Homo sapiens: one gene and its partners. The protein of the gene in region 3 purifies or fractionates together with the protein of the main gene of each other region. This does not show direct contact. Each region holds a gene or a part of one and is shown on either strand. Other genes may lie near its edges.

Region 1 (3,651 bases), on a different chromosome or scaffold from region 3:
GGTGAAACCCTGTCTCTACTAAAAATACAAAAATTAGCCGGGCGTGGTGGCACACACCTGTAATCCCAGCTACTTGGGAGGCTGAGGCAGGAGAATTGCTTGAACCCGGGAGGTGGAGGTTACAGTAAGCCAAGATCACACCACTGCACTCCAGCCTGAGCAACAGAGCGAGACTCCGTCTCAAAAAGTAAAATAAAATAACATAAAGTAAAATAACAGGGATCTGCTATGGCCTCAGATTTAAGGGGGAAACATTCACCTTATTGGCAACATAGCCTTTGCTTTGAGTAATCGTGGCAACCTGGGAATAGCTTTGTGAATTTATGAAGTGGAATTTCAGGCAGAAAAATGCCCAGGCACTGCTACTGCCCAGCAGACAGGGTGGGAGGGCTGGCAGATTTCCTTTTAATCTGCTTTAAAGCTTCAAAGAGATTCTGTCTGTAGGAAGTTTCAGCTGTACCTGGGCAGTTTCCTGACTTGGACCTCAACCACTCCAAAACACCCAAGAGGAAGCCATTAGGAACAGACTGAAAGAATCAAGCTCTTTCTCTTCGATGCTCATCTGACCCGCAGGAGCTTACAACCCGCATGTTTAAAGGCATGGTTTTCCAGAACAAGTCTTGGTTCACTGGGTCAGGCCCTACACACCCCGAGAGCATCAGCTGGCACTGGAATCAGGAAGGGTGACCCTGTATCCCCCGAAATGCAGCCACTTAGTGACTCCGAAAGGCCACTGAGCAAAGGCAGGAGCCCTGCACTGGGAGAAGGGATTTGCCTATGGCTAGAGGTTGAGTTTTCCCACTGCAGAATTCCATCTATTAGAACACCAAACTTGGCTTTATTATGATTATGGATATTATTATAAATAATAAGGAGCTGATTTGATACATGCAGCAAGCTTGGCATGGAAACATTGCAAAACAGGAAAAGAGGGTAACAGCGGACTCTGGCCCACCTTCCCAGTCTGTGCTGGGTACAGACGGCACTGCTGGAAACACATCTCCAAAATCATAATCTACAAAAACGAGGGACAAAACTGAAGATTAGAAACACAGGCAGTGGAAGGATGACTGGAGGGAGGGGAGGGGAAATGGGGTGGGAGACATGGGGAGAAAATAGGAGAGGAAAACTTCAACTTTCTACATTGTATCCAACAACCTTGGGGAAACTTACTAGGGCCCTGACTGCCTCTCAGCTCAGGCGCTGGCCCAGGAGCCTCCAACCAGCTGGAAAGACCTGTCAGGGTGACCCCTTTCCACATCCAGAAGCTGGTTCTGGCAGAGAGAAGCCTGGCTGCCTGTGCCTAGCTTTGTTTTCTACCTCTTACGTGCCTTCCCTCCATACCCTAGCAGGGCAAGGAGACACTGCCCTGGCAGCTGCAGTTGCACAATCTCCAAATTGCTGAGGGGACACCTCCATCCATGGATCCATCCTTGCCCTGGCTCTTCCGGCAAGGCCCACCCCTCCAACTCCTCTAAGGTGGCCCATGGGCCCAACCTAAGGAGACTGTGCCGCCTTCTTCAGCTTGCACGGTCAGCAATGCAGGTCTTGCTAACAGCAAGTTTGAGAGGGACCTCCCTTCCTGGGACATATAACCCGTGGTACAGCAGAAATAAAGAAAGGGGAAGGTCAAGGTCTCAATGCTGAGGCAATTCTAGGGTGCCCCAGGGCTAAATTGGGGCTGGGATCCCCTTCCCTGGAGGTGAGGTGGTGGGGTGAAGTAAATGAAGGGCTCTGGTCTCCTACAGGAGATAAAGAGGGGAAAATGGCCAGTTTTATCCATGAACACCAGGGCCTAAGGTTTGAAAGAAACCAGGCTGTTCCAGTAAATCATTGGGTCAAGACAACAAAATGACCTGCAGCTTCTTCCTCGGTCCCTGATGCAAAGGGTGCGACCATCCCAAACACATCAGCGAGCGCAGAAGGAACTCAGAGAAATCGGACGGACACACAGGACACAGTGGCAAGGTTTCCCTGCGCTTCAGACCTGCCTGGTTCTCTCTTCTTCTAGGGGTTGCTTAACCTCCTTCTGCAAAGAATGTGGGGTCAGACAAGCTCCCCAGAACAGGCAACACTCAACCCTGCGACAAGGTTTCCAGGTCCCACTGCTAAACCTTCCTTGCTTAGAAAACTGCCACAGGCATGTGACTAGAACCTTCTGGAAAAGGGTCTAACCTTAAAAAATATATATTTTATATATATATATATATATATAATTTCAGCTTTTTGTGCCCAGAATCCACTTTTTAGCCACCACAGGGACTCTGAGGAGATGAAGATCTGGGAAATGGCCAGCCCTGTTTAATTGCAAATTTCAGCCACCAGACCAAAACTAGCCAAGGAAGACATCACCCAGCCAGGCTTAAGCAGTTCAAGTCTGTTTCACAACAGGGGCTTAGCTTTTCTGCCCTGGGGCCACTCACCCTCACTAGATGGGGCAATCGCACTGTCATCCCACTCCAGGTTGGTGGAGGTGACGGAGTTGAAAGAGTTGAGGGACAGACTGTCTGAGCCGTGGACCGAGCTGGGAAGGCGGTCTTCAAAGTCCAGCAGGTACTGAGGTTTGTAGTAGTCGGGCATGTAGGGGGCCAGGTCTAGGTAAGGGGCATCCTGAGGAGAGAGTAGAGGAGGCCCGTTTGGTGGGAGGCCTCGTGCAGCGGCCTTCTGCAGACAGCAGGATCCAGGCCTGGGAGACACAGATGTGCCTCTTTGGGAAATCAATGGCTTAAGGTAGTAAATTCAAAGAAAAGCTGCTAAGAAGAGCAATGTGAATAGTGTTGGCTTTTAAAGCTGTGGACTTCAGGCTGATGGAAGACAGAGCTGTCAGAACTCAGCTACACCCTTTGATGCCCCCGCTATCTCTCTCTCTCTCTATTTATTTATTTTTTTTTTTGAGACAGAGTCTCACTCTGTTGCCCTGGCTGGAGTGCAATGACGTGGCTCGGCTCACTGCAACTTCCACCTCCCGGGTTCGAGCGATTCTCCTGCCTCAGCCTCCCAAGTAGCTGAGATTATAGGCGCCCATCACCACACCCCGCTAACTTTTGTATTTTTTTAGTAGAGACGAGGTTTCGCCATGTTGGCCAGGCTGGTCTCGAACTCCTGACCTCAGGTGATCCACCCACCTCAGCCTCCCAAAGTGCTGGGATTATAGGTGTGAGCCACTGCGCCTGGCCCAAGGAAGGTCATTTGATTAGGACGGGGCAGCTGCATCCATTTTGAGCCCAGTCCAAGAGGTGCCTGGGAGCCTCTTTGGCTCTATGTGGGCCAGCATCCCATTTGTACAGGGTGTGATGGGGAGAGAAACTTGAGAACTTGAAGAGGGTGGCTGAAGGCTCTTCATGGAGCTGATGACACTTTTCAGAACCCCAGAAGCACCAGGCTGAAACTGCCTTGTCCTTCTAACTCTTCACATCCTAAACATGAAGGCCAGTTCTTCTGGGCTAAGATACTCCAGGCAATGTGGCTTTTCTCCAAGTTGGATAGGGAGATAGGAAAAAGTCACCTGAACCAGGAATTCTTGCCATCACTTCTCTTCTCACTCAATTCGATGGACCCTGAAACCTTTCCCTCGCCCAAAAAAACAAGTTTTGCTCAAGCCCAGTCATACTCAACAAGCTCCCTCAACAAGACCTGAGAAATGAAGCCACC
Region 2 (3,651 bases), on a different chromosome or scaffold from region 3:
GGGAGGCGGTGGTTGTAGTGAGCTGAGATCAACCCACTGCACTCTAGCCTGTGTGACAAAGCAAGACACCGTCTCCAAAAAATACAAACAAACAACAACAACAAAAAAACCCCACAAATTTACGGCAAGAAACTTTACAGATCTTTTGCATTAAAAGGTTGATCTCTATCAAGGGGAAATAGGCAAAATGCTGATGTGAGTGTATTCCATTCTCTGCCCTCTTCTCCCTCCCTGTCAAACAAGAGAATCATTTGAGTATATGCTCCTCTTGCTTTTTCTTAAGAGCGGGAGCAGGGGACAGGCAATGCTGTGGTGTCAGGTGGACCTAGATTTAAGTCCCCATTATTCTACCTAGTCTCTATGTGACTTTGGAAAAATTAAAAGTCAGGGAATCTTGGTGGCAAAATAAACTGGAATGTGATTCTTGGTGAGTGTCTTCACTGTCATTCTACAAGGACAGACCAGACTAGATATTTAATACATAGTGAGAATCTTTTCACTGTGTCAGAGGCATATCTGGTTTTCCATATGCATATGCCTCTGACACAATGAAAATTTAGCAGTGAAGTGTAAATTGCCCATTGCTAGTCTGACATGGCAGCCCAGAACTCCAGTGCACAGCATCTAATAATCCTGAACTCATTGGCTATAATGCACCATTGTCATCTACAGACAATAACGGGTTTTTTGTTTTTAAACTGTAGCTGTGTCAGCGTGTTATGATGCCGTCCCGTACCAACCTGGCTACTGGAATCCCCAGTAGTAAAGTGAAATATTCAAGGCTCTCCAGCACAGACGATGGCTACATTGACCTTCAGGTAAATGCAGAAGAGAACTGACAAGACTGACTGGCTGTGTTTCTGTTAAGTTAGCAGGAAGACCTTCCAGATGGAGATTTTGCTAACTGTCCTTGGGGATTAGAAGGAGCAACAAGAAGAAAACTCAGCTCTGAGACCCTTTCAGCCATAATCGCAGAAGAGGGCCGTGGCAGGGTAGTTTCAAACCAATTCCAGTATTGTCCATTTCTAAGAATTTTTAGTTGTAATGCGAGAGCCTTGTAGTTACAGGTTTTATTTACTTTATTCAGAAACTAATCAGATTGTGTTTTGTTAAGTGGAGTTTTTTGTTGTTGTTTCTTTTTTTAAGGAACTTTAAAATTTTTGTTAGGTGGAATTTTTTTTATCACTGTTTATTTACACTTTAGTCAAAGCCCGTTCACCTTTTAAGGGAGAAACTTATTACTAAAGCCAGCAGATTGTGGGAATCTTCCTTCTTTCCTGATGTCATGAGATCCAATTTATTAAAGGTATTCTTTGTGATAAATAGTAAGTAAAACACAGTATTTATTAAGTTTGTATCCTACCCTAACCATTTATAAACTAGTCAATACTACAGCATCTCCTTTTGCACACTTCCCCTTACAATAGAATGTTCTACGTGGAACTAGGGCCAACGAGGAAGTAGCAGGAAACCATCCTTTATAAATAAATAAATTACTCTTTGGACCCACATTTGAAGGAGAGATAAAAATAGATCTGGAAAGATCTGGGAAGCTTCCAGCCACTTAGGTCAGATACAACGATGAGCCAAACCTTGGAAAATTTGTCTCTGAATCTTAACCTTGAATTGAATTTGTTCATAAGGCAGGTTTACTTGCTATGTGGAACAAACAACTAATCATTTGGAATAAGCTGAAATTGCCTTCTTTTCCTTTTTTTTTTTTTTTTTTGGAGACGGAGTTTTAGTCTTGTTTCCCAGGCTGGAGTGCAGTGGCACAACCTCGGCTCACTGCAACCTCTGCCTCCCAGGTTCAAGCGATTCTCCTGCCTCAGCCTCCCAAGTAGCTGGGATTACGGGCATGCGCCACCACGCCCAGCTAATTTTGTATTTTTAGTAGAGACAGTGTTTCTCCATGTTGGTCAGGCTGGTCTTGAACTCCTGACCTCAGGTGATCATCCTGCCTCGGCCTCGCAAAGTGCTGGGATTATAGGCGTGAGCCACCTTGCCCAGCCTCTTGTTTTGTTTTGTTTTGTTTTTAAGATGTAGTCTTGCTCTGTTGCCCAGGCTGGACTGCAGTGGTGCAATCCTGGCTCACTGCAACCTCCCCCTCCTGGTTCAAGTGATTCTTGTACCTCAGCCTCCCTAGTAGCTGGGGGATTACAGGCATGCACCACCATGCCTGGCCAATTTTCGTATTTTTAGTATAGATGGGGTTTCGCCATGTTGGCCAGGCTGGTCTCGAACTCTTAACCTCCAGTGATTCACCCACTTCGGCCTCCCAAAGCGCTGGAATTACAGGCGTGAGTCACCGCGCCCAGCCTTTTTTTTTTTTTTTTGAGACAGGGTCTTGCTCTTTTGCCCAGGCTTGGGTACAGTGGCACAATCAAGACTCACTGTAACCTTGACCTTCTGGGCTCAAGTAGTCTTTTCACCTCAGCCTCCTGAATAGCTGGGACCACAAGCATGTGCCACCACACCCAGCTAATTTTAAAATTTTTTGTAGAGACAGGATCTCTTAAATCCCCATAAGTTAGTACAGCCATCTATGTGCCAGGCAGTTAATAAATATATATCTAACAAATGAATGACTGTAAAGTCATTTCTGTTTTTGTTTTAAAGAAAAGTTTCTTATGATACAATGAATGATTTATGGAATGAGATTCGAACTAGAGTGAATGACATTCCTCTGAGATTCCTTTGAGTAACTGTGAGAGCAATAACTAGAGCTTCATCTCTTGCCAGTCCCTTTTATTTCTCAGAGCTGCACTGGGTGGTAGGACATACTTAAGACACATAAAGTATCTAGTTTGGTTCTTAATTACCCTCCTGTTTTTGCTGTTGTTGTATTTGAAACAGGCTCTGGCTCTGTCACCCAGGCTGGAGTGCAGTGGTGCAATCTCAGCTCGCTGCCTCTTCACCTCCTGGGCTCAAGCCATCCTCCCAGCTTAGCGTCCCAAGTAGCCGGGACTGCAGGCACATGCCACCACGCCCGGCTAATTTTTGTATTTTTTGTAGAGACGAGGTTTCACCATGTTGCTCAGGCTGGTCTCAAACTCCTGAACTCAAGTGATCCGCCTGCCTCAGCCTCCCACATTGCTGGGATTACAGGTGCGAGCTCTCCTCCCTGTTTTAAAGTGTTTGAGACTGGGCTTGATGGCTTATACCTGTAATCCCAGCACTTTGGGAGGCAGAGGTGGAAGGACTCCCTTGAGCCCAGGAGTTGGAGACCACCCTGGGCAACATAGTGAGACCTCGTCTCTACAGAAAAATTTAAAAATTAGCTGGGCATGGTGACGTATACTTGTAGTCCCAGCTACTTGAGAGGATGAGGCAAGAGAATTGCTTGAGCCCAGGAGTTCGAGGCTGCAATGAGCTGTAATTGCACCACTGCACTCCAGCCTGGGTGATAGAGCAAGACTCCGTCTCTAAAATCATAAAAATTAGGCCGGGCGCGGTGGCTCACGCCTGTAATGCCAGCACTTTGGGAGGCCGAGGCGGGCGGATCACCTGAGGTCAGGAGTTCAAGCCCAGCCAGGTCAACAAGGTGAAACCCTGTCTCTACTAAAAATACCAAAAAAATTAGCTGGGTGTAGTGGCGGGCACCTGTAACCCCAGCTGCTCAGGAGGCTGAGACAGGAGAATCACTTGAAT
Region 3 (3,651 bases):
GAGGATTGCTTGAGCCAAGAAGTTTGAGGTTATAGTGAGCTATAATGGCTACTGCATTCCAGCCTGAGTGACAGAGTGAGACCCTATCTTAAAAAAGGTTAACTTAAATGAGAAGCGTTCTTAGTTTGATAAAATAGTCACTTTTTTTTTTTTTTCCTGAGACAGAGTCTCACTCTATCACCCAGGTTGGAGTATAGTGATGTGATCTCAGCTCACTGCAACCTTTGTCTCCTGGATTCAAGCAATTCTTGTGCCTCAGCCTCCCAAGTAGCTGGGATTTCAGGTGTGTGCCACCACACCCAGCTAATTTTTGTATTTCTAGTAGAGACGGGGTTTCACCATGTTGGCCAGGCTGGTCTTGAACTCCTGAGCTCAAGCAATCCTCCTGCCTCAGCCTCCCAAAGTGCTGGGACTACAGGCATAAGCCACCGTGCCTGGCCAATAGTCACATTTTTTTCTATTCATCTTTTACATTTGAGTAGATCTACCTTAGACATGTGATAGCATTTTGGTGTCTTTAAAAATACTCATTTATTCCTCATTTCTTTGGTAATATTGTCTCTGTAATTCCCTGACATTTGACAAGAAGTCTTAGAAGGGGTGATTTCCTATGGATATGAAAATAGCTTTGCGTTACAGCAAACTAAAAATTAGTCACACTGAAGAAACTAACAATATATGTTTGTGTCCTTGTTTTAGGTGGATTATGTATTTACAGATAAGACTGGAACACTCACTGAAAACAGCATGGAATTCATTGAATGCTGCATAGATGGCCACAAATATAAAGGTGTAACTCAAGAGGTTGATGGATTATCTCAAACTGATGGAACTTTAACATATTTTGACAAAGTAGATAAGGTGCATTTGCATTATTGTTTTATATAAGAAACCAATCTGTGTATGCATGTTAACATTCCATAGTAGAAAATAATTTTTAGGTGGACACATGACATAGACTTTTGTGTTTTTGTTTTTTTTTTTTGAGATGGAGTCTCACTCTGTTGCCCAGGCTGGAGTACGGTGGCATGATCTCAGCTCACTGCAACCTCCGCTTCCCAGGTTCAAGCGATTCTCCTGCCTCAGCCTCCCGAGTAGCTGGGATTACAGGCGCCTGCCACCATGCCTGGCTAATTTTTTTGTATTTTTAGTAGAAACGGAGTTTCACCATGTTGGTCAGGCTGGTCTCAAACTCCTGACCTCAGGTAATCCACCACCCTCCGTCCCCCAAAGTGCTGGGATTACAGGCATGAGCCACTGTGCCCAGTGACTTTAGAATAACTATTGTTGGATTCACCTTTCTTGTTTTACTGACACTTCTGAAATTTGTAAATGAGTAGAATTTACAAGTAAAGAGAATTGTGGGAAATGACATTTGGGTAAAAGCTTGCTTGTCTGTATGATCATAATTTTTTGTGCTTTGTCTTTTAAAATGTAAGCTCCTCCAAGAATGATGTCTGTTCAAATGATTAAAGTCTCAGGAGTGTCTAGGCATTAAATTAACCAGAGTCTCCCTACACTTGAGCTATTGCTAGATTGTGAATTAGATACTGAATGAAGTTTTTTAGGCCATGAAGAAGTCACTGCTTTGGCTTAGGTGGTGCCACAATAACCTTAATGAGTTAACACAGCCTATAGGGTATGCTAGCTGAGAACCAGGAACTCTTATTAGGTACTAGGAGAATATATAGCAGATTTGAGTGTTAAGAATTTATACGTATCTGCTACTAAGTTTGTTAGAAGTTACAACATTCTCTCACATTAATATATTTTCTCCGTTCACTGCCTAGTTACCGGGTGATCAAATTAAAAATAATAATCATTATTTTGTTGCTGTTCCACAGAATCGAGAAGAGCTGTTTCTACGTGCCTTGTGTTTATGTCATACTGTAGAAATCAAAACAAACGATGCTGTTGATGGAGCTACAGAATCAGCTGAATTAACCTATATCTCCTCTTCACCAGATGAAATAGCTTTGGTGAAAGGAGCTAAAAGGTAAAGTATACTTTCTTATACTTCTCCTAAGAAAGTGAAATCACAGGAGGACAGAAGTTATTTGTTTTTTTCCGTTTGCTTCAGTGACCTTAGCACATACATCTCCTATTATTTAATAAAAAACACAACTGCTTTAGCCAAAAATTTGTGGAAAATTCCCACACCTAACCAGTTAAGACTAAAAAGAAAATAGTTACAGGTAGGTATTACTTGCCTTACTATTTATGCATGCCAGCCAGAAGTCTGAATGTTCATACTATGTTTTGCAAATAACATAACAGTGGCCACTTTTTGTACAACACATGTTATTTCTGAGGTGCTCCCAGCAATTTTGACATCATTTGAGAACCGAAAGTCCAGTTTTACCCATGAGGTTCAAGATAATTAAGTGGCTCAAAGGTCACCCAGTGTGTTAGCCGTAGAATCAGAAACCCAAATTGTCTCTCCCTTGGTTACAATAATTGTGGCTGGGCATTGACTTTCTCTGTTATCAACTTATCCAGGAAAAGAAAGTACAGTTATATGTTGAGATCATATGAAAGAGAAGAAAAGCATAAACAAGCATGAGTTACCCCATTGAAAGTAATCATTCTAGACCAGGTGCGGTGGCTCACGCCTGTAATCCCAGCACTTTGGGAGGCCAAGGCGGGTGGATCACCTGAGGTCAGGAGTTCAAGACCAGCCTGGCCAACATGGTGAAACTCTGTCTCTACTAAAAATACAAAAATCAGCCGGGTGTGGTGACACACACCTGTAATCTCAGCTACTCAGGAGGTTGAGGCAGGAGAATCGCTTGAAACTGGGAGGTGAAGGTTGCAGTGAGCCGAGATCGCGCCACTGCACTCCAGCCTGGGCAACAGAGCGAGACTCTGTCTCAAAAAAAATAATAATAAAAAAATTAATCATTCTTTAGAGATACACAAGGTCTTTTTTATTGTTTTTGATAGGTACGGGTTCACATTTTTAGGAAATCGAAATGGATATATGAGAGTAGAGAACCAAAGAAAAGAAATAGAAGAGTAAGTAGCTCTGTGTTTGATGTTTGTCATTTCTTAACCCCATAGTCAAATTTAAGTGGATTCAGGCAGGGCAGCAAAGGAAATGATGCCACTAAAAATACAGGACCCTGCTCTCCCAGTTCAGAGTTTTATGTAAATATAGTTGGGGTAGAAGCCATGTTACATAGAATTGCAGAAACTGGAGTTTGAGGTGGAAATTCCAATCTGGTTCACATCTGGGTCCAGTAGCCAGAATGAGAGTTTGCCTGGAATGTTTCTCAAATTTAGATGCCATTTCAGGTCTCTAACACATGCTACAGGAAAAATCAGTGAATATATGTGAAACCTTCTGCTATCTAGTGTCCAAGCAATCACTCTGGGATTGCAAGCCCAGGCAATAAAGGCAGCTTTGCTGTAAACCAGAAGCCTTGTTTGGTTCGGAATGTTCAGGTGTGAGCCTCGGGGCAAGTACTCTGATGCTCCAGTGTCTTCACATTTCCTCTTTTGCCACAAAGACCCTAATGAACAAAGCCACCTTATCTTAATGGTGGATTTTAATTAGGCTCTGTGATTAATTTGAATTTCCTCATCTGAACTTGAAATATAATTATGTTATCTGACTTTCATTCTGGCCCCTAGGATCTCCTGAGACCCATC

The links.
Region 1: the proteins of ATP11C (region 3) and PLEKHM2 fractionate together in Homo sapiens (co-fractionation; one large-scale study listed by BioGRID). This does not show direct contact.
Region 2: the proteins of ATP11C (region 3) and TMEM230 purify together in Homo sapiens (affinity purification with mass spectrometry; one large-scale study listed by BioGRID and IntAct). This does not show direct contact.

Annotation. Positions count from the first base shown.
Region 1 is NC_000001.11:15,718,693-15,722,343, reverse strand, and holds part of PLEKHM2 (pleckstrin homology domain-containing family M member 2), read right to left. Parts: intron 2,611-3,651; coding exon 2,424-2,610; intron 2,008-2,423; exon of another isoform or gene 1,900-2,007; coding exon of another isoform or gene 1,857-1,899; intron 1,016-1,856; coding exon 956-1,015; intron 1-955. UniProt on the Homo sapiens protein: Plays a role in lysosomes movement and localization at the cell periphery acting as an effector of ARL8B.
Region 2 is NC_000020.11:5,106,499-5,110,149, reverse strand, and holds part of TMEM230 (transmembrane protein 230), read left to right. Parts: intron 1-704; coding exon of another isoform or gene 705-719; coding exon 720-818; intron 819-3,651.
Region 3 is NC_000023.11:139,786,537-139,790,187, reverse strand, and holds part of ATP11C (phospholipid-transporting ATPase IG), read left to right. Parts: intron 1-699; coding exon 700-861; intron 862-1,844; coding exon 1,845-1,996; intron 1,997-2,943; coding exon 2,944-3,015; intron 3,016-3,651. UniProt on the Homo sapiens protein: Catalytic component of a P4-ATPase flippase complex which catalyzes the hydrolysis of ATP coupled to the transport of aminophospholipids, phosphatidylserines (PS) and phosphatidylethanolamines (PE), from the outer to the inner leaflet of the plasma membrane.